Linked DNA regions of Homo sapiens: all the other regions are linked to region 3. The links come from fine-mapping of genetic effects on gene expression. A gene starts in region 3. Each other region holds a variant in brackets. All regions are shown on one strand. Distances are between the middles of the regions. Region 1 has its middle 22 kb from the start of RBM38-AS1. Region 2 has its middle 32 kb from the start of RBM38-AS1. Region 3 holds the start of RBM38 (RNA binding motif protein 38).

Region 1 (8,173 bases), 23 kb before region 3:
TCACTGCCGAAGAAACTAAACAGAAAAGTAAAGAAAAAATAGAAACATTTTAAAAAGAAAAGAAACTAAACACAGAGCTTCTTTTATTCTCAGGCCAGGCTTTGCCTTAGTATCAGTCAGAAGCGCTTAAAAAAATACTCATGCCAGGCGCTTCTCCCAAAGACTGGGTTCCGGGTGGGGCACAGGCAGCATTGCTTTTAGCAGCTCCTGCAGCTCAGTTCTCAGGTGCAGCCAGGGCTGGAAGCCCTGATAACAGGATTGCTCTGCGGCAGGGCTGCAAGGAGCCTTCTCAGGTCATGGTCACGAAGATGCGGCTGTGGCTTTGGGCGGGGTCTGAGAGTCCGGTCGAGGTTGGAGGCAGTGAGCAAGGGGATGCTATTGGTATTAACACCAGTCCAGCGAGATCCCAAGATCCTCAGAGCTGGGGGTGGGGAGGTGGGGAACCCATCGAGTCTCCCGAGCGATTAACCAGCTCAACACAAAGGGCCCGGAAGCAGAGAGGGCACTTTCTCAGGGCAGGGTTGATAGGACCGTAGCAGCAGCACGGATCCTAATAAAGGTGGGCCCACCTTCAACTTCTCCCTCAAACCTGGCCCTAAGTGCTTGTTCTACTTCGTGTTCTAGGAGGCACTACAAAGTATTATTATTTCCTTTCTATTAATGAGGAAACTGAGGATCAGAGAAGGTGAGTGACTTACCTAAGGTCACACAGCTTGTCAGGAAAGAAACTCAGATTCACATTCAGGTCTGATTCCAAACACTTGAATTATTAACCCTTGTGCTAGATCATCCCCTGAGGCAAAGCTAACTCTGCTGGAGTAGAAGGGCTGGCACATGCCACAACATGGATGAACTTTGAAAACCTGATGCAAAATAAAAGAAGCCAAACCCCCAAGATCACATATTGCATGGACATTCTTAAGAAATGTCCAGAATAGGCAAATCCATAGAATGTGGATTATTATTCTATTATTATTATTATCTAGTATTATTATTTCCTTTCTAATAATGAGGAAACTGAAGATCAGAGAAGGTGAGTGACTTACCTAAGGTCACACAGCTTGTCAGGAAAGAAACTCAGATTCACATTCAGGTCTGATTCCAAACACTTGAATGATTAACCCTTGTACCAGACCATCCCCTGAGGCAAAGCTAACTCTGCTGGAGTAGGGACCAAGGTTGAAGATATCTCTATCTTTCCATTCATCCCCCCATCCATCCCTTCCTTTATCCATCACTCCCTCCCTCCCTCCATTTCATCTTCCATCAATCCTCCCAATCACCCTCCCTCCCTCCATCCATTCCCCATCCATTTCTCCATTCATGTATCCATCAATCCTCCCATTCACACTCCTTCCCTCTATCCGTTTCTCCATTCATCTGTCCATCAATCCTCCCATTCACCCTCCCTCCCTCCATCCATTCCCCAACCATTTCTCCATGCATATATCCATCTATCCTCCCATTCACCCTCCATCCATACATCTCTATCCATTCCTCCACCCATTCTTTTTCCCTTTCTTCAGTCCCTCCCTCCCTCCATCTGTCACATAATTGCATAACTGTCCTCTAGAAAGACGTCAAGGGGGATAAAGCACGTGTGTACACGGTTCCTGCTTCCTCCTCTACTTGGCTCTCCTGTGACTCCTAACCGACAAGTTAAAATGCCTGCCAGGGTTCAATGAGAGGCACAGTAAAGATTGGTGGGGACTGGAGCAAACTGGAGAGCACGGGTGTCACTGCTGCTGTGAGGAACTCTGGGCCCAGCATTGTGAGAAGCTTCTGTTCATGGTGGCTTTTTTCCTTCCACCGTACTCTGTGGCCATCTCTCCGTGTCGGGAAATAGACTTCCACAGTATCATTCTTAGTGGCTCTGTGGCCTTTCTCCCTGTGGCCACACCAGAATACAGGTCATTGTCTCCTCCCATGGAGACCCCAGCTGCAGGTTAGGAGGGCAGCTTTGGCATCAGATCCCCCGGGGTTTGGAGCCCAGCTCTGCCAGCTACTCACTGTGTGACCCTGGGAAAACTCCCTGACTAGCCTGAGCCTCAGTGTCTGCATCTATAAAGTGGGTTGTTGTGTGGATTTGATGAGCCCATGCTGCTGAGTGGTGGGCACAGGGCCTGGCACAAGCCCAGTGCTGGATAAGTTCAGGCTTCTCTGCCCTGCCCACCCTGAGGATGAGGACTACAGCTCCCCACGCCCCCGGTTACCTTGCAGGCTTTTGCTAAACCTCAGCTTGAGATTCAGGACTGTGGCCTTCATGGGCCACACCTCCACCTAGGCCTGTGGGAGCCAAGCAGCCTTTGGTGACGTTCCGCTCTCCCGTGGTTCAGGAGGGCTTGTGCTTGCAAGCTGGGCAGAGGCTGTCCACACCTGCGCAGGGCGAGCCATCCCAGGGCACGCTGGCTGCTGGGGAGCACGGTCCTGCCACTGCGTGGGAGGGTAGGAACCCCAGGCTCAGCCCATTTCCCAGGAGCGAGGTTGTCAGGCCCAGGGAGGAGGAAGAAGAGGCAGCCCAGACTCATGCCTAGGACGCTCTGAGGCCAGGCCCTTATCCCAGAGACAGCTGCTTGGAAAGAAAAACAAATGAGAGAACAAGGATGGGGTTGGAGGTGATAGCTTAGATAGGGAGGTCCCAGAAGGCATCTCCAAGGCTGACATTTGAGTTAGGGTTCAGGGACAACAAGGAGAGAGTGACTCCCTCCATCTCTCTCTCTCTCTCTCAGGATCAGACAGGTGGCAGGGCCAGTTCGCCCTGGCCGTGGAGGCTGTGCAAGGAAGTGGGATTTAGTGGAGAGTCACAGAGGGCTTGTATTGTGTGATTGTGTGTGTGCCGGGAAACTGGGTTCTGAGTCACACGGTTGAAGACAGAGCGGGTTCCCATAGACAAGCGCCTGGACCCCAACCCCACCCCGCTGCAGGCTCAGGCCTATCAGAGAAACCCAGAAAGTCAGCAGAAGAGAGGGGCACAGACACCACCCACTGGAACCTCTGGAGCGTCTGGAGTGCGCACACACAGATGCAAGAGCAAATGACCAAACGCCAAGCCTCATTCGCTGGCTTTCATTTCTCAGCTGTGAAAAATAGAGAGCCGTGTTAAGAAAAAATAAAAGCCTCCTGTCCTCCTACGACCATTAACACCTGGTCTCTTTCCTTCCACTCCTTTTTATACACATATGCAGATTATTTTAATAAATTAAAGGAAATAGTCACATTTTCCCCCCAACAGTCTTAATTTTATAATTTAGAAAAAAAGATCTTTATTTTAATTTCTCTAAAAACGCCCCCATCACTGGAGCAGGGAGCCAGCAGGAGGCACCCGGGAACCCTCTGAGTTGTTTCTGCTGCACCAGGCTCAGCTGTCTGGTGGGCCGGGCTGTGGGCGGAGGGTGGTTCACCCCATCATGATCTCCAGGCCACCGTGCACCCCAATGTGTACACCAGGACTTGAGGCGGGAGCAGGCAGGGCAACGGGGCTGATAAGCAGAGCCAG[A/G]CACTTATCGGCCCCTGCGGGAGGCCCAGGAGGTATCTGGAAGCCCAGGTGCCCACCCCAGGCTGTGCCCTATGCAACACCCAGCCTCGGGGCACGCTGGAGAGCTGCCCCTGTTATTCGCTCAGCATCTGGAGGGCTCCCAACCTCCTGCCCAGGGGGCTCCTGGTTGGATGTTTACGTCTCTGGGGAACAAACACAAGTGTGACTCAGCAGCCAGGGCAGGGGTGGGGAGGACGCCCGGCTGACTTTGGCTGAGGAAGGTGGAGGATGGGTGCGGTGGCCAGAACCCAGTCCTCAGGGTGCAGCGGCGTGTGGCTCCAGGTTCAGGATGCATGGGTCCAACCCCCAGCTCTGCCCTGGCCCTGCCACTGTCCAGCTCTCTGGCCTGGAGCAGGCGGCCAAATCTGCTCAGCTTTGGTTTTCCCATCTGTGAAATGGGCACAGTCAACTTCTCACAGGCTGCTGGGAGAGTTTAGGGAAATGACAGGTGTAAAGCCATGGCAGGTCTCCAATAAATGCCAGTTTTCATGCATTCTGGGGCTTTGAGGACAACCTCGGTTCCAGAGGTGGGGAGACTGAAGCAGGAGGGTTTGTCTTGTTGGATTGGCAGCATGGGTCCGTCATCCTCAGGCAGCACCCTGAAAAACAGCGGGTGGCCTTCCAGGAATCAGGGGTCTTCTCAAACCCACCCTCCATCGCTTCGCTTACCCTGCTAGCAGTGGGGGCTGAGGGCTCCCTGAGGGGCGCCTACTCCACACCAGGGCTGCACGGGGCACCTTACCTAACTCATCCCCTGTAATCCCGGCCACAGCCCTGGGAGGCAGGACCTTGGTTATTAACCCATTTCTAGGTGATGTAACCGTGGCTCAGTCAGTCACCTGAGGTGGCCGGAACATCCGGGCTCAGTCAATCGCCTGAGGTGGCCCAAGCATCCAGCCCCTCCTGCTGCCCCTTGTTGGCCCTGCCTGCAGCTGGCCCAGGCTGGGGGTCTGCACCCCTGAAGGAGGCATGGGTGGGGCTTAGGAGACAGGACTGAGCCCTGGTCAAGGTGTTCCACGCAAGCTCCCCAGAGGCCACATAGCCAAAGACCAACAACACAGGCTTTGGAGGCAGACCGACCCGGGCCCGAAGCCTGGATGGGTCAGCTATTCCTCACCAGGCCACCTCCCCGCTCTGAGCCTGTCTTCCCCTCTGTAAAATGGGACCATGACTCCACTCCTCGTGGGAGGATGCTAAGGAGAAGGAACCAAGCCAGCACACTGGAGCACATCAGAGGGCACCTCCTGGTGGCCCCAGGCCCAGCTCCCACTCAAGGACCATGAATGCGAAGGCACCTTGGGCCGCCGGTCCTGTAGGAACGTGGGCAGCCATGTCCGATGAGAACTGTTTGCCAAACTTCCAACACCTCACTGAGGCAGAAGCTCGAGCTGTCCTCCTGGAACTGCCCCTAAGGAACCAGGTGACCTCAGGCCATGTGCAGTGAGCGCTCTGAGCCGCGATCTCCCCCTGGGTGAAATGGGCATAAGGATAGACCCAGCGCACCCCACTGGTGTGAAGGTAAAGAGGTAACAGGCTTGGTCAGTAACAGTCTCCATAAAGCACGTATGAATGGGACATGACTCTCATGGACTCAAAGCTTACTGCTGGAAGGACCTGAGGCAGAAACTGCAAGTTGTCTGCATAAGGACATTCCCGTGTCTTCCTTGGTAGCAGAAGGCTTTCTGTGTTCCAGGTAGCTATATCCCCAGCTAAACACCGACATTCCCCACCATCCCTTGCAGTTAAGTATGGCCATGTGACTAAGTTCTGGCCAACGAAATGGAAGAGGAATGTTGTGTGCAACTTCTGGGAAGTCTCCTCGAGAAGTCTCGGCTTGAGATACTCTAGCCTTCCCCTTTCTTTCTTCTGCTGCCTGGCACTTGAACATGATGGCTGGAGCTCCAGCAGCCATCTTGGTCCCCAAGATGGTCTTAAGGAAGGAAGCCATGCATTGAAATGGTTCACTGGGATGATGGAAGGGGCCTAAGCTCCTGATGACTGTGGAGCTGTCATCCAAGTCCTGGACTGCCTGCTTCAGACTTATTTTACATGAGAAAAATAAATGCATTACAGGTAGCTAAGAACCACCCTAATTTTGGACTTTCTATTGCAGTTGCTGAACCTAATTCTAAGTAATGCCAGCCCTTTGAGGTTGTATATGTCCAGAGTCTTGGTTGCCAGGGACAAAAAAATCAAATCAAATAGGCTTAAGTAAAAGGGGGAAAGTATTAGCTCTCAAATTAAAAAGGTCCAGGATCTAACTTCAGGCATAGCTGGATCAAAAGCCCCCAGAGATGTCCCCAAGACCCTATCTCTGCTCCTCTCTCCTCCTCAGCTCTCCTTTCTCCTGGGCTGGCTTCCTTCTCAGGCAGCCTCTCCATAAGCACAAACTCCTCTCTGCCCCCAGCTGCTTCAGGCTTATCTGCTCCCAGCTTGGCTTCCTCAGCAGAGGGACAGCTTTCCTCCCCCAGGAGGACTGACTCGCATGGACCCACACTGGGTCACACGTCTATCCCTGAACCATTCTGAGGGTCCAGGGGAGTAGAATATGCTGACTATTTGAGCTGCAGAGCCAGGGGTAGAGGTGGCTCCATTGAACCACCTGGCCTGAGGGTGGTGCGGGGGCAGCTCCCTAAGGAAAAGCAGGTGCTGTCACCAGGAAGGGAGTGGATGCTGGGCCGGCAGGACCTGCGGGGCTACCCAGGGGTCAGCTCAATGCATGCAGGGAAGAAGGTGAGGTTCAAGGAGGATGGCAACCAGGCAAGCTCCCCACCAGGGCAGAGCAGAGCAAGCCAGGGCTGTGACACGGAGGTGACCTCACCATTGTGTGGCTTCTTCTCGTGGGCTGCGGTGGCTGTGGTTCCCACACCTTGTCCCAGCCCAGTCCCTCTGTGATTACACCCCCAGAAGGGGAGTGACAGCCCAATGGCCTTGGAGAGCCCCTTTTTCCTCTCTGGGCCTCAGTTTGCTCAACTGGAAAGTGGCATGAAAATGGGGCTCTAAGGGAAGCACCTCTCACTCACCACTGCCCCTCCCCAGCAAGAAGTCTCCAAATCAATGCCATGGGGCGGGGTGGGGTCTCAGGCCCCTCTGGATCCTGCGTGCCTCTCCCAGCCCCCAGCTGGCTCACACAGCAGCCACGTGCCCCGGAAGTTGCGCTCAGCCTCTGCTCCCAGGCCTGGTCCTCTTGCCTGCTTGGAGGGTGACAGCTCAGAGGTGGATCAACCTGTGGGCAAAGCCCGCCTAGTGGGATGGCCCTGGCTGCACTGCTGAGGCTCTCTGGGCTTTGTCAGCTCCTTGAAGAAGGGGAAGCAGGCGCTTCTCCAGGCCCCACAGGACTTGGGCACCCCACTCCCGGGGACGTTGAGTGCCTGGCCCACGCTGCCGTCGTTGAGGTCTCTCACGGCCGTCTCAGCTGGGTGTGCAAACCCCACAGGCAGCTGCTTCAGGAGGGGATCCCTGGAAGCACAGCAGGGGATCGAGGACGTGAGGCAGTGAAGAGAAGGGGGAGTCATGGACTCAGGGCACCAGCGCAGGGCACACACCCCAGAGTGACTGCCGAGGGTGGCAAGGGAGGGGCGTCTATCCCCTAACTGCCCTCTGGCCTGCTGAGGGCTGCCCTGGGGTGTTAGCTCCCCGGCCCTTCCTGCCTGCCTGTGCACTGGCCGAGCCTGGGCCAATGTCCAGACAGAAACCTTTTCGAGGACTAGGGGGCTGGCAATGAGCGGTCTTCCCCCGCGCCAAAGGACACTGGCAGCCAACATCTGCCGCCCAGCCAAGTGAGCGGCCAGGTACGGCAACTCCCTCACTGTGCCCGTCTCTTCTCCCCCCGAGTCCTCCGGCCTGGACCTGCTCCACTTCCCTCTCTCCCAAGCCAATGAACCCTCAAAACCATGGCTGCTGCCCCCCGCAACACCCTCACTTGTTGTGGAGCCAAACGATGGGGGTGGGTCTTGTACTGTCACTCAACACGTGTGTGCACATGTGTGTCTGGGTGCACATATGTGTGTATCTTTGTGTAGGTACATGGGGTGTGTGCACGTCTATCTCCACATGTATATATGTGTGTGCACATCTGTGTGTGCCTTGAAGGTAATTTTGTGTGCAAGCGTATCTCCGTGTGCATGTGCATGTACTGTGTGGGAGCCAGGGTGTGTACGTGTGTATGTGTGATGGTGTGTCTGAGTGTGTGTCTGTTTCTCTGTGTGCATGTATCTCTGAATATCGAGTGGGAGTGTGTGTGTAGCACATACATGTTTGTGCTAATGTGTCTGTGGATGCATGTCCATGTGGATATGTGTATCTATGCACAGGTATGCCTGTATCAGTGTGTGTGTGTGTGTCTATGTGTCTGTGCATATGGGGGTCTGGGATAATGTGTGTTAACGTGTATACATACACAAACATACATCTGCATGCATGTGTGTATGACATCTGGCCCTCTGGGCACAGGCCTGTGCCGGCTGCTAGGAACACAGTGGGTAGGACAGAAAGTCCCTGCCTTGGGAGGACACTTGCGACCGTCTTGCACAGTGAGGCTCAAGGCCGGGGAGGACCTGGCTGGGCTCAGCCTGCATGTCTGGGCACACCCCGGCCACCTCAATCAGGCCCACGCCCTTCAGCTCCAGGCAAGCCCCT
Region 2 (8,173 bases), 34 kb before region 3:
CGATGGTTGCTCTCCTGGCTGGTGGGGAGAGCTGCCCAGGCCAGGAGGATCCCAGGCAGGCTGGGGACCGGGGCATCCTTCCCCAGCGACACAGTTTAGGCGGCTGGGGGTGGGGCAAGGCAGCACGTTCAGCAGCTGGATCCTGGCCTGTGTCCTTGAGTCACCGAGGGTAGCACCAGGCTGGTGCCCAACGGCACGACTGTGCCTCATTTGTGATGCAAATGGCTGGCAGTGGCCACGGATGGGCGAGGGCACAGCATCCTCAGCCAGGACCCCGGGAGCTTTTATTCTGAGCAGAGCTCAGGGAGAGGAGGAGGGGGAGGCTGCCTCCCCAACCAGCCCCAAGGGATCTTTCTGAGTGGGGCAGGGGGCAGCAGGGACCCCGAAGCAGGAGTGACACATTCCTGGCAGCCGACAGGGAGGGCTGGGGCCACTGGAATGAATAGGAAAACGTTGGCTGGCAGAGGGCTCAGTCCTGCTGGAACCCAAGGGTCATCTCGCCAGGCTTGCCCTCTGGACTCCTGAGAGACCAAGGCCACATTATGTCATACCTGGCACTTCCTGGTCCGGCCTGTTGGGCCTCCAGCCTCTCCTGGATCCCCTGCCAAGCTGCAGTCACACAGAACTCTCCCGGCTCTTTGCCACCTCGAAGCTTTTCCGCGGCTGTTCCCCCTGCCTGGAAGAAGGTTCCTGTCATCAGCGCCAGTCTTTCTTTCAGTGTTAGCTCACATGGGGTTCACCCTGAGGCTGTCCAAGTTTTAGCTTAGGGGAAAGGCCCTGGCCCTAATTCTGTACATGTAACTGTATCTCTTTTTCTTAAAGATTGTGTCCAAAATTGACATAATTTCAGGCTTTGAAAAACCTGAGCCTGGGCCAGGCGCAGTGGCTCACGCCTATAATCCCAGCACTTTGGGGAGGCCGAGGCGGGTGGATCACTTGAGGTCAGGAGTTTGAGACTAGCCTCGCCAACATGGAGAAATCTTGCCTCTACTAAAAATACAAAAAAAAAAAAAAGAAAAAAAAAGAAATTAGCTGCTGTGCTGGTGGGTGCCTGTAATCCCAGCTACTTGGGAGACTGAGGCACAAGAATCACTTGAACCCGGGAGGTGGAGGTTGCAGTGAGCTGAGATTGTGCCACTGCACTCCAGCCTGGGTAACAGAGCAAGACTCCGTCTCAAAAAAAAAAAAAAAAAACAAAACAAAAAAAAACAAACTAAACTAAAAAAACAAAAACCTGAGTCTGTCCCCAGTGGTGGGAAAATGTCCCCTGACATCTTCCTCCTGAGCTGCTGAATCACTGAACAGGTCACATGCCTTAAGGCGGTTCATTCATTCAGCAGCTATTTACTGAGCAGCTATTATGTATTGGGGACTTGCCTAGGTACTGGGGAAAGAGCTGCAAATAAGACAGACAGAATGCCTGCCACCTGGATTCACATTCCTTGGGGGGACCGGCAATCCACACACACATAAATGACACACAAGCAACAAGTGAGCAGCACCTAGAGCAAGCAAAGGCCAGGAGGAGTGACAAGGGCTATGGTGAAAAGTCAAGCAGGCCGGGGAGAGGGGCTGCAACTTGAACCAAGCAGCCAGTGAGATGAAGAGACCTGCAGGAGGTAAGAGGTGAGCCGTGTGGACACCTAAGGGAAGAACATTCAGGCTGAGGGAACTGCACGTGCAAAGGGCCTGAGGCAGGGACGCTGCCTGGGCAGGCTCAGCACTTCACTGTGGCATTTATCAGACTGAAGTTAAACATTATTCCAGAGATTACTTACATGGCTTTTTTATTTTTAAGAGACAAGGTCTCGCTCTGTCACCCAGGTTAGAGTGCGGTGGTGCAATCATAGCTCACTGCAGCCTGGAACTCCTGGGCTCAAGTGATCCTCCTGCCTCGGCCTCCCGAGTAGCTAGGACTGCAGGCATGCACCATGATGCCCAGCTAAATGACTTATATCTTTGTCTTCTCACCAGGACCTTGTATTTGGTTGGTGTTCAATAAGTAAATGGGGAAAGATTGGTTGAATGAATGTGTTTAGAGGGAGAGGTTGGGGCTGGTGAAGTTGTCAGAGGCGCCCACCCTGCAGCATGACCAGCTCCTGCTGGAACAGATGACGCTGTTTCTAACCCCCTCCCCCACAGGCCCACTGTCTCCATTCATGCCGTGGAGGCCTTGCTGTGGGGTGGGTAGCAGTGAGGTGGGTGCTGTGATGGTCAGTAGGGACCCGGGGAGGTGGCTCAGGACTGCACACTGGAAGGAGGCTCCCTTCCCCGACCTTCCCAGGGGCCAGAGCTCTGCAGCTGCCTGCAGGTAGAGACCTTGGTGTGGACACTGGTGTCCTGGGATGGGGGCCCCAGGCAGCCTTCTCCAGAGCCTTGGGGTAGCAGGCACAGGCGAGTGAGAGCATAGTGGGAAGAGGGCAGGGAAGACACACAGTGGCTTCCAAGGACCCACGGTGACTTCCGAGGACCCACAGTGGCTTCTGAGGCTGGTTTGGAGGCCTAGGGGATCCCCCTTGGGAGACTCTAGAAATAACAGTGAAACCACGTCAGGAGGCACAGGTCCTGCTGGGTCACTGAATTTGGGGAAAAATTCAGGAAAGTGTGGCCTGAGATCCAGTGTCTCTGCATCCCACCATGCCCTCCTGGGGGTGCTGTGGGAGGACTAAGGAGGAAGGTGCAGATGAAATGACGGCCCACAGATGGGCTCACTGCTGAGGTGATGCCGACAGACCAGCACATGTGACTGTGTTCCAGGTGAGCCTGAAAGAGCTCCTGCCTCCATCGCTGGGGATGGGAACGCCCACCCCACCTGCCCCATGCACGCCACAGATAGCACGCAGCTGACGGCAAAGAAAGAGCAAGCCCCGTGTGTGCTAAGGGGCCTGGTCAAGATGCATTTAGTGGGAAAGAGACAGGTGCCGTGCAGAGCAAATGGCCTGTGCTCGAAGCGGGGAAGAGTAAACATCCATCTGTGCAGACCTCAGTGTCCCCAGCTGGAGGTGCTGCACGCCTCGGGAGAAGAGAATTGGAAGGGACAGGATGGGAGGGAGACTTTCCACGACAGTCTCCTGGATCCTATCAATACCTAGGGAATTGAAGCTGGGCTCATTCTCTGTGTTGAAATGCCACCACCGGGCCAGGCAAGGGGGCTCATGCCTGTAATCCCAGCTCTTAGGGAGGCAGAGGCGGGAAAACAGCTTGGGCCCAGGAGTTCAAAACCTGCCTGGGCAATATAGCGAGACCCCGTTCTAAAAAATAAAAATTGAAATGCCACCACCATTAGCAGCAGGAAGCTGATGTCTGAAGGCTGGATAGCTCAGAGGCTAGGGTGCAAAGCAGGGGATATGGAGTCCATCTCAGTGGGACCTATCTGTCCTCCCCCTTCTCACGAAGCCAACCATCCCAGCACCCACTTCTCCACCAAGAACAATGGTGCTCCCCCTCCTCTGGGAGCGGAAGGGCGCAGGGTGTGGTGGAGGCAGTCTGCAGCGCCCGGGTGCTAGGGGGGAGATCCGGGGAGGTCTCAAGTACTCTGTGGAAGACTGGGTGCAAGTGAGACTGGAAGTCACGCTAGGATGGTCTCCGTGTCAAGTGCAGCTGTGCTGGGGGAGGGGAGGAAGTTGCCAGGAGTCAGGACCC[CTG/G]TTTCCAACCCCCAGAGAGTTGCCACTCCAAAGCCGCCAGCAGTGTCTGTGTTGTAAGAGGGTGGGAGGATATGAAGTCATGCGGCCCCATCTGGGCCCCTCCCCAGCTGGCAGCCTCAGCCTCCACTCCCTGACCACGCTCCTGCCCTCCCGGCCTCCCTGCAGTTCCTCAGCGTAGCCGAGCATGTCCAACCTCCAGGCATTTGCACAGGCCACCACCTCCTCCGCAATGCTCTTCCCCTGTGCCTTACTGTGGGACCTCTCCCCAGGCTCTGCTGGCCCTGCCTCCCACCTGGCCCCTCCTGACCCTCCAGTATCCTACCTGCCCGTTTCCTTCACAGCCCTCCTCACACTCTGTAACTCAGTGCTGAGCAGTGAGTTCCCAGAGGACAGTAGCCACGCCCAGCTTCTCACTGCTTCCCTGCTGCTTCCCCCCACCCCCAGAGGAGCAGCTCAGGTGTCATTTGTGGAAAGAACAAAAGGAGACTCTTTGGGGCTTAATGCACTGTCATTTAGGGGGGAAATATTGAGTGGTTATGAGGCTTATCAAAGGGAGAGCCAGAGTCCAACCCAGGATGGAGAGTTTTAGAACAAAAAAAATAGGCCAGGCGCGGTGGCTCACGCCTGTAATCTCAGCACTTTGGGAGGCTGAGATGGGTGGATCACGAGGTCAGGAGATTGTAGACCAGCCTGGCTAACACGGTGAAACCCTGTCTCTACTAAAAATACAAAAAATTAGCCGGGCGTGGTGGCGGCGCCTGTAGTCCCAGCTACTCGGGAGGCTGAGGCAGGAGAATGATGTGAACCTGGGTGGCAGAGCCTGCAGTGAGCTGAGATGGCGCCACTGCACTCCAGCCTGCGCGACACAGCAAGACTCCGTCTCAAAAAAACAAAACAAAACAAAACAAAACAAAACAAAAAAACAAAAAGACTGCCCTGCATGATAAAAAGGGTTAAATTTGTTTTAGGGGCCAATGGAAGCAAGTTATATTTTCTTTCCTGTGGACTAACCCAGAGTGGGAAAGCCAGGGGCACCTGTAGAGCCTTGGCACAGAACCAACACTGGCTGAGAATGGTGAGAATATAAGTCCTTATAACAGTGTCTAAGCTGCTGGATTCAGTCATTCCTGCCAGAACTTTATAGCCGCATGAGCCAATCCAGTCCAACCATTCTCCAGGAAGGGTCAGCCAGTCCAGGTGGAGCTGTTCCCGGGTTCCCTACCAAATGACAGAAACCCCAAGTCAAACTGCTGGGGTGGACAGAATAATGACCCCAAGACATCCATGTCCTAATCTCTGGAACTCGTAAATAAGTCATATGGCAAAAGAACTTTGCAGATGTGATTAAGGTTATAAACCTCCAGATAGGGAGATGATGTCTGGATTATACAGGTGGGACCAATCTAATCCCATAAACCCGTGAAGGCAGCGAACTTTCTCCAGCTGGAGGCAGAGACCGGTGGGTAGCAAAAGGGAAGCTGCAGAGATTGAGTGTGAGAGGCGCTCACCTGCTGTTGCTGGTGGGGCCACGTGGAAAGTGCAGGAACGGTCCAGGCGCGGTGGCTCACGCCTGTAATCCCAGCACTTTGGGAGGCCGAGGTGGGTGGATCTCCTGAGGTCAGGAGTTCAAGACCAGCCTGGCCAACATGGCGAACTCCTGTCTCTACTAAAAATACAAAAATTAACCAGGCATGGTGGCGCACACCTGTAGTCCCAGTTACTTAGGAGGTTGAGGCAGGAGAATTGTTTGAACCCAGGAGGTGGAGGCAGTGAGCTGCAATGCCACCACTGCCCTCCAGCTTGAGTGACAGAGTGAGACTCCATCTTAACAAAAAAAAAAAAAAAAGAAAAGAAAAAGAAAAAGGAAAACGAAAGTGCAGGAAGGAACCTGGCAGTCCCCCAGGGCAAAGACCTGCCCCAGCTCCCAGCCAGCAAGGAAGGGAGACCTGAGTCCTACAAATGCAAGGAACTGAATTCAGCCAGCAACTGAATGAGGCTGGAAGTAGATTCTTCCCCAGAGCCACCAGTAAGTAATCCAGCACCACCAACACCTTGATTTCAGCCTCAAGAGACCTCAAGCCAAGGTCCCTTTTGGGGCATGACCTACAAAATTGTGACATAATGGATAAGTGGGGTTTTTTTTTGTTTTGTTTTTGTTTTTGTTTTTGTGTTTTTGAGACAGAGTTTTGCTCTTGTTGCCCAGGCTGGAGTACAATGGCACGATCTTGGTTCACCGCAACCTCCGCCTCCCAGGTTCAAGCAATTCTCCTGCCTCAGCCTCCTGAGTAGCTGGGACTACAGGCATGCACCATCACACCCTGCTAATTTTGTATTTCTAGTAGTGATGGGGTTTCTCCATGTTGGTCAGGCTGGTCTCAAACTCCCGACCTCAGGTGATCTGCCTGCCTTGGCCTCCCAAAGTGCTGGGATTACAGGCGTGAGCCACCATGCCTGGCCAGATAAGTGTTTTTTTAAGCCACTAAGTTGGTGATAAGTTGATAATAGAAAATCAAGACACTAGTTTAATGAAAAAAGAGAACTGACTTGCTCTCTCACTGGTCTGGCTTCAGGAATGGCTGGATCCAGCAGCTTAAACACTGTCACCGGGACTTGGTTTCTCTGTTTCCCACACCTGCTATCCCCCAAACTAGCCTCATGCTCAGGGTCCATAGGGTCATCCTGGCAGCTTCAGACTCTAACCCCCCAGGTTAATGTCCATGGAAAAGGGGTCCTGCCTCTCTCCCAGCCACCCCAGCATAAACTTTATGGTATCTCATTGGCTCTAACTGGATGATGTGCCCATTCCTGAGTTCATTACTGAGGCCAGTGGCATCCAATGTTCTTATTGGCCAGGCCTGGGCCTCACGCCCACCCCCATAGGGCCAGGGGTAGAACTGGACTCACCTGAGACCCAGGGACCTGGAGTAGAGAAGGGAGAGTTCCCCCAAGGAAAACCTGGGCACAGTTCCAGGCTGTCTGGTAATTGGCCTCGGAAGCCCCAGTGCAGAGGGCCAGGGAGTCTATTCTCGAATTTTCCTTGTCTTACTTTCCGGAGGGAAGGCACTCTGTGAGGTGACCTGGGTGGAGCAGCACCCCCATAATCGGACACTGCACCCCATCCCCCACTGTGCCTTTAGCCGAGCCTGCCACAGTCTCCTGTCCCAGGGCCACATTTCCAAAATTGTACACTAGCAAGCAGGAAACCTTTGCTCCTTGGAAGCATGCTTTGCTGAGAATCAGAGTAAATAAACTGGTATTTATACCACGACCCCACGGGGTGGCTGTTTTTCTCTGAGGCAAATATGGTCAAAATTGAACCTTGTGGCCCTTGAAGGAGAGCAAGGCTGTCCCAAGAGGATCTCAGAGGGAGGCCTCCACATCCTACCCTCGCACGGGCATCTCTGAACTCTACTGGAAGACTCCCCAGGAGCAGGGAACAGGGGAGGGGGCCTGGCTGCACCCCCACAGGCCTTTCCCAGGGCAGCTCCAGGCAGGGCCCAAGTCTGTGTCTGCAGCATTCCTATCCCCCAGTGCACTGTCTCATGAGGACTCACCCGACGCAGGTGACTGTGGGTGGCAGATGCTGCTTCGGCTGACTTTGAAGCTTGGAAGGTCGTTTAATTTAAATTCTCTAGAATTCACATGAGCAGCAACTATTGTAAGTTCCCTACTTTGTGCCAGACACTGGACGGGCGGCTGGGCACTGTCATGGATGGGTCGGAAACACCCTTGCCTCCTGAGTTCACGTTCAGGAAGGAGGCAGATGTTAAAATGAGCAAATGAATAAATGCACTGAGTGGCACAAACCCTGAGAAGCGCTTGGAGGAGGCAGGCAGTGTCAGAGGGTGGGTGGAGGAGGGCACTACATCAACACCTGCAGGGAGGTGCTCCAGGCAGTGGACACGGTATGTGCGAAGGCCCCGCGGTGGGAAGGAGTTTCAGCAGGGCCACCTGTGCACTCAGGACTCCTCATGCATCATTCCTTCCGCAGACATTTATTGAGTGCCAAGTGCATGCCAGGCAGGGTGCCGGGCACTGGAGTGACAATGGTGGTGAGCAGAGCCTGGCCTGGCCCTGAGCCCCTGGAGCTCACAGTCTAGCAGGGCAGACAGACCCCAATCACATCACCCTGGAACCTCTTTCGTTTCTGGTGAGTATTGGCTGGAGAAGCGCTGGACACGGCCCCGTGGCGGTTTCCCTGGCCTCTCCATGGCATCTCCTCTCTCCGAGGAGGCGGCCCCTCCTGGAAGGACCAGCTTCAGGGTGAGGTTAGGGGCAGCACGGCTCCCGGGCCACCTCCCGCAGAGTGCAACCTGGCTGGGTCAGCGGCTCTGGAAGGAGCTGGGACCAGGGCTGTTTCCTTCCCTCCAGAGCCCCACACAGGGTGGGTCCCAGCTAGGGATCATCTTCCCCTCTCCTCCACCTGCACTCATTCCACAGGCAGTCTCTGCCGGCTGAGGGTGGTGACAACCTCTGTTTGCTGGAGATGCCTGGAGTGGTCTCTGGGGGCTCTCTCTCCCCTCAGCACA
Region 3 (8,173 bases):
GCCAGCCAGCAGATTTAGTTACAAAACACCGTCGCCTGAAGTCGGGGGCACACAGTGGCAAACTCTGTGACCGATCCCAACTGCTTCTGGATGGGTGGTGTTCACAGGACTCCAGGACAGCAAGGGAAAGGTCGGGCCAGGGCCCTTCCCACCGTCCCCCACCAAGAAAGCATGCGTTCAGGCACCCACCACCTGTGTTCCAATCTCCTCCCGGACGTCTATTACCTCACGCCTCCCCACCCTGGCCCTGCCACCCGCCCCCAGGCCCAGACAGGTGGTTAGCCTTTCTCTGCCTCAGTTTCCCCATCTATAAAGTAAGAATGGTTTCAGTCCCATCCTCAGAGGCCTGCTATGAGGACAGGAGAGGACTTCTGAGGAGGCCAGAGCACCCAGCCCACATGCCTGTGCACTGTTTTAAGCAGTTAATGTTCCTGTTTTCCGGATGAGGATGCCACTGCCAAGACAGACCCAGCTGGTAAGGGGCAAAGTCAGGATTCGAACCCACCTCTGCAGGCCCCAGAGGCCAAGCACTGATGGGTATGGAGTCCCAGAGGTAGCTGTGTGGATCAGAGCGAGCCCAGACGCACGTGGGAAGGCCTTATCCCACTGTAAGCAGAAAAGAGCTGCAGGCACTGGAGGCACACACCCTCACCTCTGGGCAGCTGCTCCCGCCCAGTCCATGCCCCCAGGCGCCTGCTGTGGGCCTGGGGAATGGAGCCAAGGTTCTGGAAAACAAGGAACACCCTCTTCATGTGGCCTGAACCCCATAGGAAGAATCTCGGTGAAGGCATGAAGGCTACAGTGTCCCCAAACACCCTCTAAGACGACTCTAGACATCTACAAAACAGATTCCAGGACGAGACGGACAGGGCCGCCTGCTCCCACCACCCTACACGCTCCCTTCCCAGGAGGACAGAGGCACCCCGGCAGGAACCTGAGCTGCCCGGCCACTCGCACAGGCTAGAAGGGCCCCGGCCACCCTCCAGCACCCCTCAGCCAGCGGCTCCTCCCACTGCTACACTTGCACACATCCACCAATACACACGGAAGCCGGCAGGGAGCCCCCGAGTCACCCCAAGCGTTCCCAAAAAGTGGGCACAGCAACTTCTGCTGGGGCCTCTGACCCATTCACCTGGGAGCCAGGCCCCAGGGGACCCATTCACCTGGGAGCCAGGCTCAGCCGGGTTCCACAGGATCCTTGTCCACACTGCCCCAGTCAGGCAGGTTACTCCTCAAGCTGTGTCTCTCTCAATGGAATCTACGTGGTGCGCACATGCGTGAGCACACACACGTGATCAACTGGCATTAGGGATTTGGATTCAGAAAGTTCATGAAGTGCCAATGCCCTGAAAGGGGTGGTGGTCTCTGAGCTGCCTTCCCCTCCAACTCCAACCCCATCAATATGCCACGGCGCTAGGGCAGACAGCTTCCATCCATCATGGGGGTGGGGAGGCAGGCCGCAAGGCAGGACTCTTTGTATCCCTTAAGTGTGTGTGTCCCTCCCCAAGCAGCTGCCAGGACTTACTAGATGTTTTAAAAAAGGGCAGGGAGGTGGGAGGCGTTTTAGGATGGAGAAGAGTGGGCTGCGCTGCTTGTAAATGAGTCAGACTAGAAGCCCATAGGCCAGGCCACTCAGGCAGGTGGCCTCCACCCCAAACACATCGTATCTACAGCAACGTTCACAAACATCAGACCTTGGTAGCAATGACCTACTGCCACCACCTGCCCCAGCACTAGAACAGGTGAGAGGAGTGCCTGGGGAAGAACTCAGCCTGCCAGTCCCTAAGAGTCATCAGCAAACACTTCAAGAGGGCGTTACCTGCACCAGGCCCACCCTAGGCCCTCCATTCAGAGAACTCAGATGTGCTGTGACCACTCCCATTTTACGGGTGAGGAAACTGAGGCCACACACCTAGCGAAGGGAGCTGGGGTGTGTACCAAGGCAGGCAGGCTCCAAGGCTCACCATCCCCTAGGTGGTATGGCCTCTGCCAGGGATGGAGAAGTGCAATCTGCCTTCTCTTCACTCCCTTGGCTTAAACGCAATCAAATGTCTGAAAACTGTCATTTCCCCAGCCTTCCAGACCCAGGAAGCCCAAGGCCCTCTCCACTTCATCTCCACGGACTACCCACCCCAAGCCAGCCATGTCCACTCACCCGTAAGTCCGCTGGATCAAGGTGGGGTGCAGCTGCTGCACCCCAATGGCAAAGCCTAAAACGAGAGAACAATCAGGGACTTGGCCTTGCTGCACGAGCCACGTCTCAAGGGCTGCACACAGGGTGGCAGAATCCCACAAGCCACACACCTCTAGTCAAAAGGGATCATCCGCTTCCTCTCCCCTCCCAGGCCTCCCCCTTGTGAACCCCAAGGCACACCGCTGAAGTGTGGCAGTGAGTGACGCAGGTGTCAGCAGCCACTGGTGTCGGCACTCCCAACCTCCAGGCCCCATGGCCACTTCCTCCCTCCTGCGAGGACAGCTGGCAACTGGGGTGCAGTACCCTCCCTGCCCCCCGCCCCCTTCTTTGGGCCACACGCTGTGAGAAGGGGTCTAGATCCTCGAGGGGGGGATGGCTGCCCTGTGCCGGCTCTGCAGGCACATGATAGCCGACTGCCACTGCTGGGGCGAGGAGGGGGGGCCTCTTTCCACCCGACAGATACCGACACCCAATATAGAAACCGAGAAGAGCCAGGCAGGAAAACACAAGCTCTCACCCGTCTGGAGGCTCCGCGGCTTGGCGCCCAGATATGCCAGGTTCACGTTGGCCTTGCGGCCGTCGATGATGGGGTTCGGGTCTTTGCAAGCCCTCTCAGCTGCCGCCCGGTCGGCCATGGTCACCTGGTGGAGCAGAGACACATCAGGGGCTGCCGTGGGGGGAACCAGGGGCGAAAGGGGCAGACGGCTCCGCCCTGGCACCGGATGCTGCCACCCCTCTCTTCCCTTCCTCTGAGGGTGCCTGTGACCCAGGGTCCTTGAGCCAAAGCTCCTCTGAACCCTACCTGGGGCTCTCCCACAAAGATGCCTCCTGGATTCCAGCTCCTCCCGTCAAAGTTCAAGGCCTGGGAAATGTGGCCTTCAAGGACAAAAATAATCCCCTGCGGGGATAGGGCAAAAATGAACCCCGAAGGGAGCTTGGGGGGCCGCCTGGACTTGCCCACCAGTGAGGGCCGAGACTTTCCTCTGAGAAGGAGTTTGCGACGCTATGCTTGGAAGGTAAGCAGGAAAGTGTCTTCAAGACGTTTTTACTTAAGCTGATGTTTATTTGGGGCGGCTGAGAGGGCTGTTAAAAATATGGGGGAGGCCGAAGAGCTCCTAACACCCCGGGGTGGAGCCATTGCTCCTCACCCCCCGCTGCTCCAGGAAATCCCGAGTGCCCTCTGGCTCCAAAACCTCCCCACCAACTTAGGAGTCCTAATTGAACACAGCGGCTCTTCCTTTTAAACCGGGGGTGGGGGTGGGGGTGGGGGTGGGGGTGGGGGCCGGGGCCTGGGGTGGTGGGGGCGGGACCGGCAGGAGCGCGCCCGGGAGAGGCGGCAGGTGCGGGCGCCGGCTGGAGGCGCCTGGGGCGGGGGCGGCAGCGGGCCGTCTGGGCGTGTGCCCCGGAGTGGACTCGGCGCCCGGGCCGCGATAAGGTGTGCGGCGGGGTGCGGGCCCGGGCGCGGGGGCCACTTACGAAGCCGTAGCCGCGGGACTTGCCCGTCTGGCGGTCGGTGATGACCACGGCCTCCTCGATGTCGCCGAAGCCCTCGAAGTACTTCCTGAGCGAGGCGTCGGTAGTGTGGTACGGCAGGCCGCCCACGAAGATCTTGGTGAACGTGGTGTCCTTCTGCGAGCCGTGCATGGCGCCGGGGGCGGCCAGGGGCCGCGGGAAGCCCGCGCTCGGGGCGCACGGCGCGGGCTGCAGCAGCATGGGGGGCGCCCCGCCGCCTACGGACCCGGGCCGCGCGGGGCTGCGCTCATGGGGGGCGGCGGGGAGCGCGCGGGGCAGCGAGGGGCGCCCGTCCAGCCGCCAGGCCCGACCACTCCGGCGCCCGTCCCGCCGTGCGCGCCGACGTGCGCCGCGCTGCGCTCCCGACCGGCGCTGCGGGGACTCTGCGCCCCGGCACCGCCCCCGGGCTTTGTAGCCTGCCGCCCCCGCCAGCTCAGCCCCGCCCCCAGCCGGCCCCGCCCCGCCCCGGGCGCGCGGGGACCGCCGGGAAGCGTAGTTCTAACCCCGCCCAGCCGCACCCGGGCGCGCGGCGATTGGGGGGAGGGGGGAGGGGAGCGCACGCGGGCTGAGGGCGGATCCGGGCCTGGGGGCGCTGGGCGCGCCTTTCTCTCCTGGCTGCCCCCGCGGGCCCGGCCGGTTGCAGGCACTAAGCACAACCCTGAACTAGGGAGGCCAGGCCCCTTCCCTCGTGGAGCGCACCGTCTGGTGAATTAAACGTAAAAAACGTAAAAAAACGTAAACGGTTTTTAGCATCTTGTTAATTGAGTCGGTATTTAACCCAGGGCGACTTAGGGAAGAGCCACGTGCCATATTAAAAAAGGGAAATGATTTCTGTTTTATATGTAAGATTAGTTCATCCGACCGATATTTACTCTGGGCGCGAGGCTGCAGCGGAGCACAGATCATATTCCCTGGCCCCACGGAGCGTCCAGGACTGAGAATTCGGCTAGTAAACATACAGCATACGACCCCGGAGGGAGCTACACCACGGTGCCGCGATAGAAGCGGGTCCCGGGCGGTCTCAGAGGCCCCGCGGGAGATGAGGTGGGCAGAGGAAGCAGGTGTGGGCTCTTTCCAGCTCCACCCCGTTCTGGGCTGGTGTCAGGGACCCTTGGGGCGAGTAAGAGCAGACCCGGGTCCCTCATCCGGCCCCCAGCCATAGAAAGGCGGCGCATAGTGGGGCTCTGTGAGCTTCACACCAGGCAGGGCCAGCCACAGAATTTTCGGGGCCCAGTGCAAAATGCAAACGCGGGGCCCCTTATTCAAAAGCTAGGAATTTCAAGTTGGCAGCGGTTGAGCATGAAACTCAGCCCCGGGCTTTCCTGAGCGAAGGGAAGGGCCGTGTGACTGCACAGACCCCGGGATCCCGGACCTGCGGGTCACACCCTCCACCTCTGAAGCCGGGACTAGGGGCCTCAAGCCCGCCTCATCTCCAGCCCCCGCGGTTGGGACCTATGCAGCTGGGAAACAGCAGCTCTAATTGGGGTCACTCCCGGCCCCAGCCCTGCGGCCTCCTCTCAGCACAGGGCGACGCAGGTGGGGTCTGTGGGGACTGGGAGTGGCACTCCGTGGGCTGTGGGGGACCGCAAGGCCGGCGAGGAGTTCCCCTCGTTTCCTCCAGCACCGAGGAGTTCTCCGCGTTTCCTCCAGCCCTCTGCCCTGGCTGCCGGCGGGGAGGAGTCTGCCCGCCCCCTCCCCCACTCCACGGCCCACGCTCCACGCGGCAGCCTTGACCTCTGACCTCTCCCTCCCCCAGCTCCCGCTCTAGCCCTCTGCACAGTGGGGATGGGACCCCCGAGTCTTCCGGAAGCCTGGGCGTCCTTTCCTCCCTTCCCCCTTCGTTCCTCGTTCCTGGCGCTCCTGCCCCCGCTTGCGGCCCCCGTTGCCCTTCATCCCGCGTGGTTTCCTCTCCTTCCTTCGCGGAGTTTCCCACCTCCCCGGCCCTGTGTGTTCGCCTGCCTGGAGCCCCTCCCCTGCTATTTGGGCGCTGCGAGAACAGGGACCTGGGATGTTTTGCCCAAGCTGGAGGGCCTGGCAAGGAGAGGGCTCTGGGATATGTTTGTTGAGTGTATCCACGATGGAACAAGGTGGGGTGGGGGAAAGCTCTGGCCCAGCCGGAGGCCCTTCGAAGCGACTTTGAAAACTTTCATTTAAGTGTGACCTTCACTTGCCCCCTAGAGGCCGGGGGAGGCGGCCACTGCGCGGCCGCGTGCTTTTGCGCCAGCTGGATCCCTTCACCAGGCCTCGGTTTCCCCTTCAGTTTTTCCAAGGCTGTCCCCAGCCGTCGCGTTGCCTGGGCAGGCTGGAGCCGCGTCGGTGGCGTGGCCACGGGCTTCAGCCCGGAGGCGCCCGGGCTCCCGGCCTACAAGTCCCAGCGCCGCCCGGGCCCGCCTCGCCCGCGCCCCTCCCGGCACGACAGCCCCACAAAGGGGTGCGGCCGCTCGGCTGCTGCCGCGGGGGCCGGGCCCAGGCGGCAGGGCAGCCCCGGGGCCTCTGCCTGCCCGGAAGGGGGCGGGACAGGGCCGTGGAGGCTGGAGACGCGGTTGCCCAGGTGCGGGTCCAGTCGCACTCCTTCGCCCCCCGCCCCCGGGCCCCCTTGGGTATCTGGATCACCAATCCCTCCCCCCCTCCGGCGGCCCCATGTCTCCACGGGTCACCAGCTTCTGCCTGACAATCAGTCATTCACCCAAACACACACTTTTTTTTTTTTTTTTTTTGAGACAAGGTCTCTCCCTGTCGCTGGAGTGTAGCGATCATAGCTCATTGCAGCCTCGACCTCTCGGGCTCCAAGCCATCCTCCTACCTCAGCCTCCCAAGTAACTGGGATTACCGGTGCGTACTACGATGCCGGGATAATTTTATATTTTGTGTAGAGGCTGGTCTCGAACTCTTGGGATTAGGCAATCTTCCTGACTTGGCCTCCCAAATTGCTGGGATTACAGGCTGAGCCACTGCACCCAGCCTCAAACACACATTTATGTGCACCACTGCACTCCAGCCTGGGCGACAGAGCAAGACTCCGTCTCAAAAAAAAAAAAAAACTACAGTCTCATCAGCGCCACTACTTGACCTTGTTGTTGAACGCATTGATGAAGAAGACATTGCTTGTCTACATTGCTACATCACATATTTGTTTTTTAAATATTTTCATAGCCGTTTTTATTTGTTTTAATTAGAGATGGGGTCTCTCTATGTCGCCCAGGCTGATACAGAACTCCTGGGCTCAGTTGATCCTCTTGCCTCAGCCTCCTGAGTAGCTGGGACTTCAGGTGCATGCCAACACACCCAGCCTATATTTTAATGTGATTGTTTTCCTTTGCTAATCTAAGCATTTTATTTGTTATTATTATTTTTTATAAAGACAGGGTCTTGCTGTGTTGTCCGGGCTGGAGTGCAGTGGTGTGATCATAGCTCCCTGCAGTCTCAGCCTCCCGAGTAGCTGGAACCACAGGCATGCGCCCAGCTGATTTTTTAAATTTTTTTTTGTAGAGTCAAGGTCTCCCTTTATTGTCTAGGCTGGTCTCAAACTCCTAGCCTCAAGCAACCCTCCCACCTCCGCCTCCCAAAGCACCGGGATTACAAGTGTGAGCCACCGTGCCTGGCTGGTAAGCATTTTAAGTGTTTAATACTATTACCTTAGGTATCAGCTGACTGCCAAGGGTTCCATGGCCCACAAAGGGCCCCTGGAAAGGGAACACAGTTTTGTGAGACTAGGCTGGGAGCCAGGCTGGGCAGAGGTGACTTGGGTCCCTCAGGCCTCACTGGGGAGCGGGAGGGAGGACTGGCAACTGTGTGTGCTGGGTGAGAAAATGGAAATTGCAGGAGCTTGGAACGCAGAATTCCTGCTCAGTGTGAGGATGAGCCCAGCACTTTCTGTGTGTTATCTTAGTTCATCTCACAAAAGCCCTAGGAAGAGATGACTACGATGATGCCCATTATATAGCTGAGGAAACTGATGCTCAGAGAGGTCCTCTCCTGCCTCCCTCGCAAATGTGTGATGTGTGCAGGGCACAAATGCAGAACTGCCTGGCCTAGGCCTGCTCTCTGCTCCCAGCTGTGGCTCCAGCTGCCCTGCAGAGGAGGGAGAGTGAGTTTACCCTGATGAGGATGTGCAGAGAGGAGCAGGTGAGGCCGGCCACTGCGATCTGAAACAGCACAGCCCCATCCAGGCAGGGCTCTGGTTTGAGTCTTCAGGCCCCGCGCTCTTGGGCCTCCTCTTTTTGTTTGTCGTGTTGGTGTTTATATCAAGGCTCTTCGGGGACTCAGCTTTGGGCTGAGCTTGGTGCAGGTGGCCTGTACACCCCCAGCCTGCAGCCCAGCTCCTTTGAATCCATGGGAGCCCCAGGTTGCCATTTTCATCTGCCAGGTGCAGAGCAGTGAGCCTGGGAATCCCAGCACTTTGGGAGGCCGAAGCAGGTGGATCACCTAAGGTCAGGAGTTCGAGACCAGCCTGGCCGACATGGTGAA

What was found. PIP is the estimated chance that this variant, and not a neighbour inherited with it, causes the effect.
Region 1: its variant is fine-mapped to the expression of RBM38 in whole blood (TOPMed, PIP 0.97).
Region 2: its variant is fine-mapped to the expression of RBM38 in monocytes (Quach 2016, PIP 0.95).

Annotation. Positions count from the first base shown.
Region 1 is chr20:57,410,673-57,418,845 of GRCh38, reverse strand. No RefSeq gene overlaps it. Among named protein-coding and RNA genes, the nearest start is that of RBM38-AS1, 22 kb to the right of the region's middle. RefSeq lists enhancers at 2,619-3,387, 3,449-3,593, 3,499-3,793, 3,388-4,155, 4,156-4,925 and 2 more and cis regulatory regions at 3,497, 3,486-3,505. The variant A/G (reference allele first, on the strand shown) is at 3,497.
Region 2 is chr20:57,421,116-57,429,288 of GRCh38, reverse strand. No RefSeq gene overlaps it. Among named protein-coding and RNA genes, the nearest start is that of RBM38-AS1, 32 kb to the right of the region's middle. The variant CTG/G (reference allele first, on the strand shown) is at 3,643.
Region 3 is chr20:57,387,316-57,395,488 of GRCh38, reverse strand. It overlaps RBM38 (RNA binding motif protein 38), which reads right to left and starts at 4,093. Exons shown (of 4, transcript NM_017495.6): 1 at 3,671-4,093; 2 at 2,712-2,835; 3 at 2,156-2,210. The coding sequence starts at 3,907. RBM38-AS1 (RBM38 antisense RNA 1) reads left to right here and starts at 2,433. Exons shown (of 2, transcript NR_149006.1): 1 at 2,433-3,210. RefSeq lists enhancers at 2,431-2,620, 3,375-3,874, 3,875-4,376 and silencers at 3,471-3,660, 4,011-4,410, 6,021-6,400.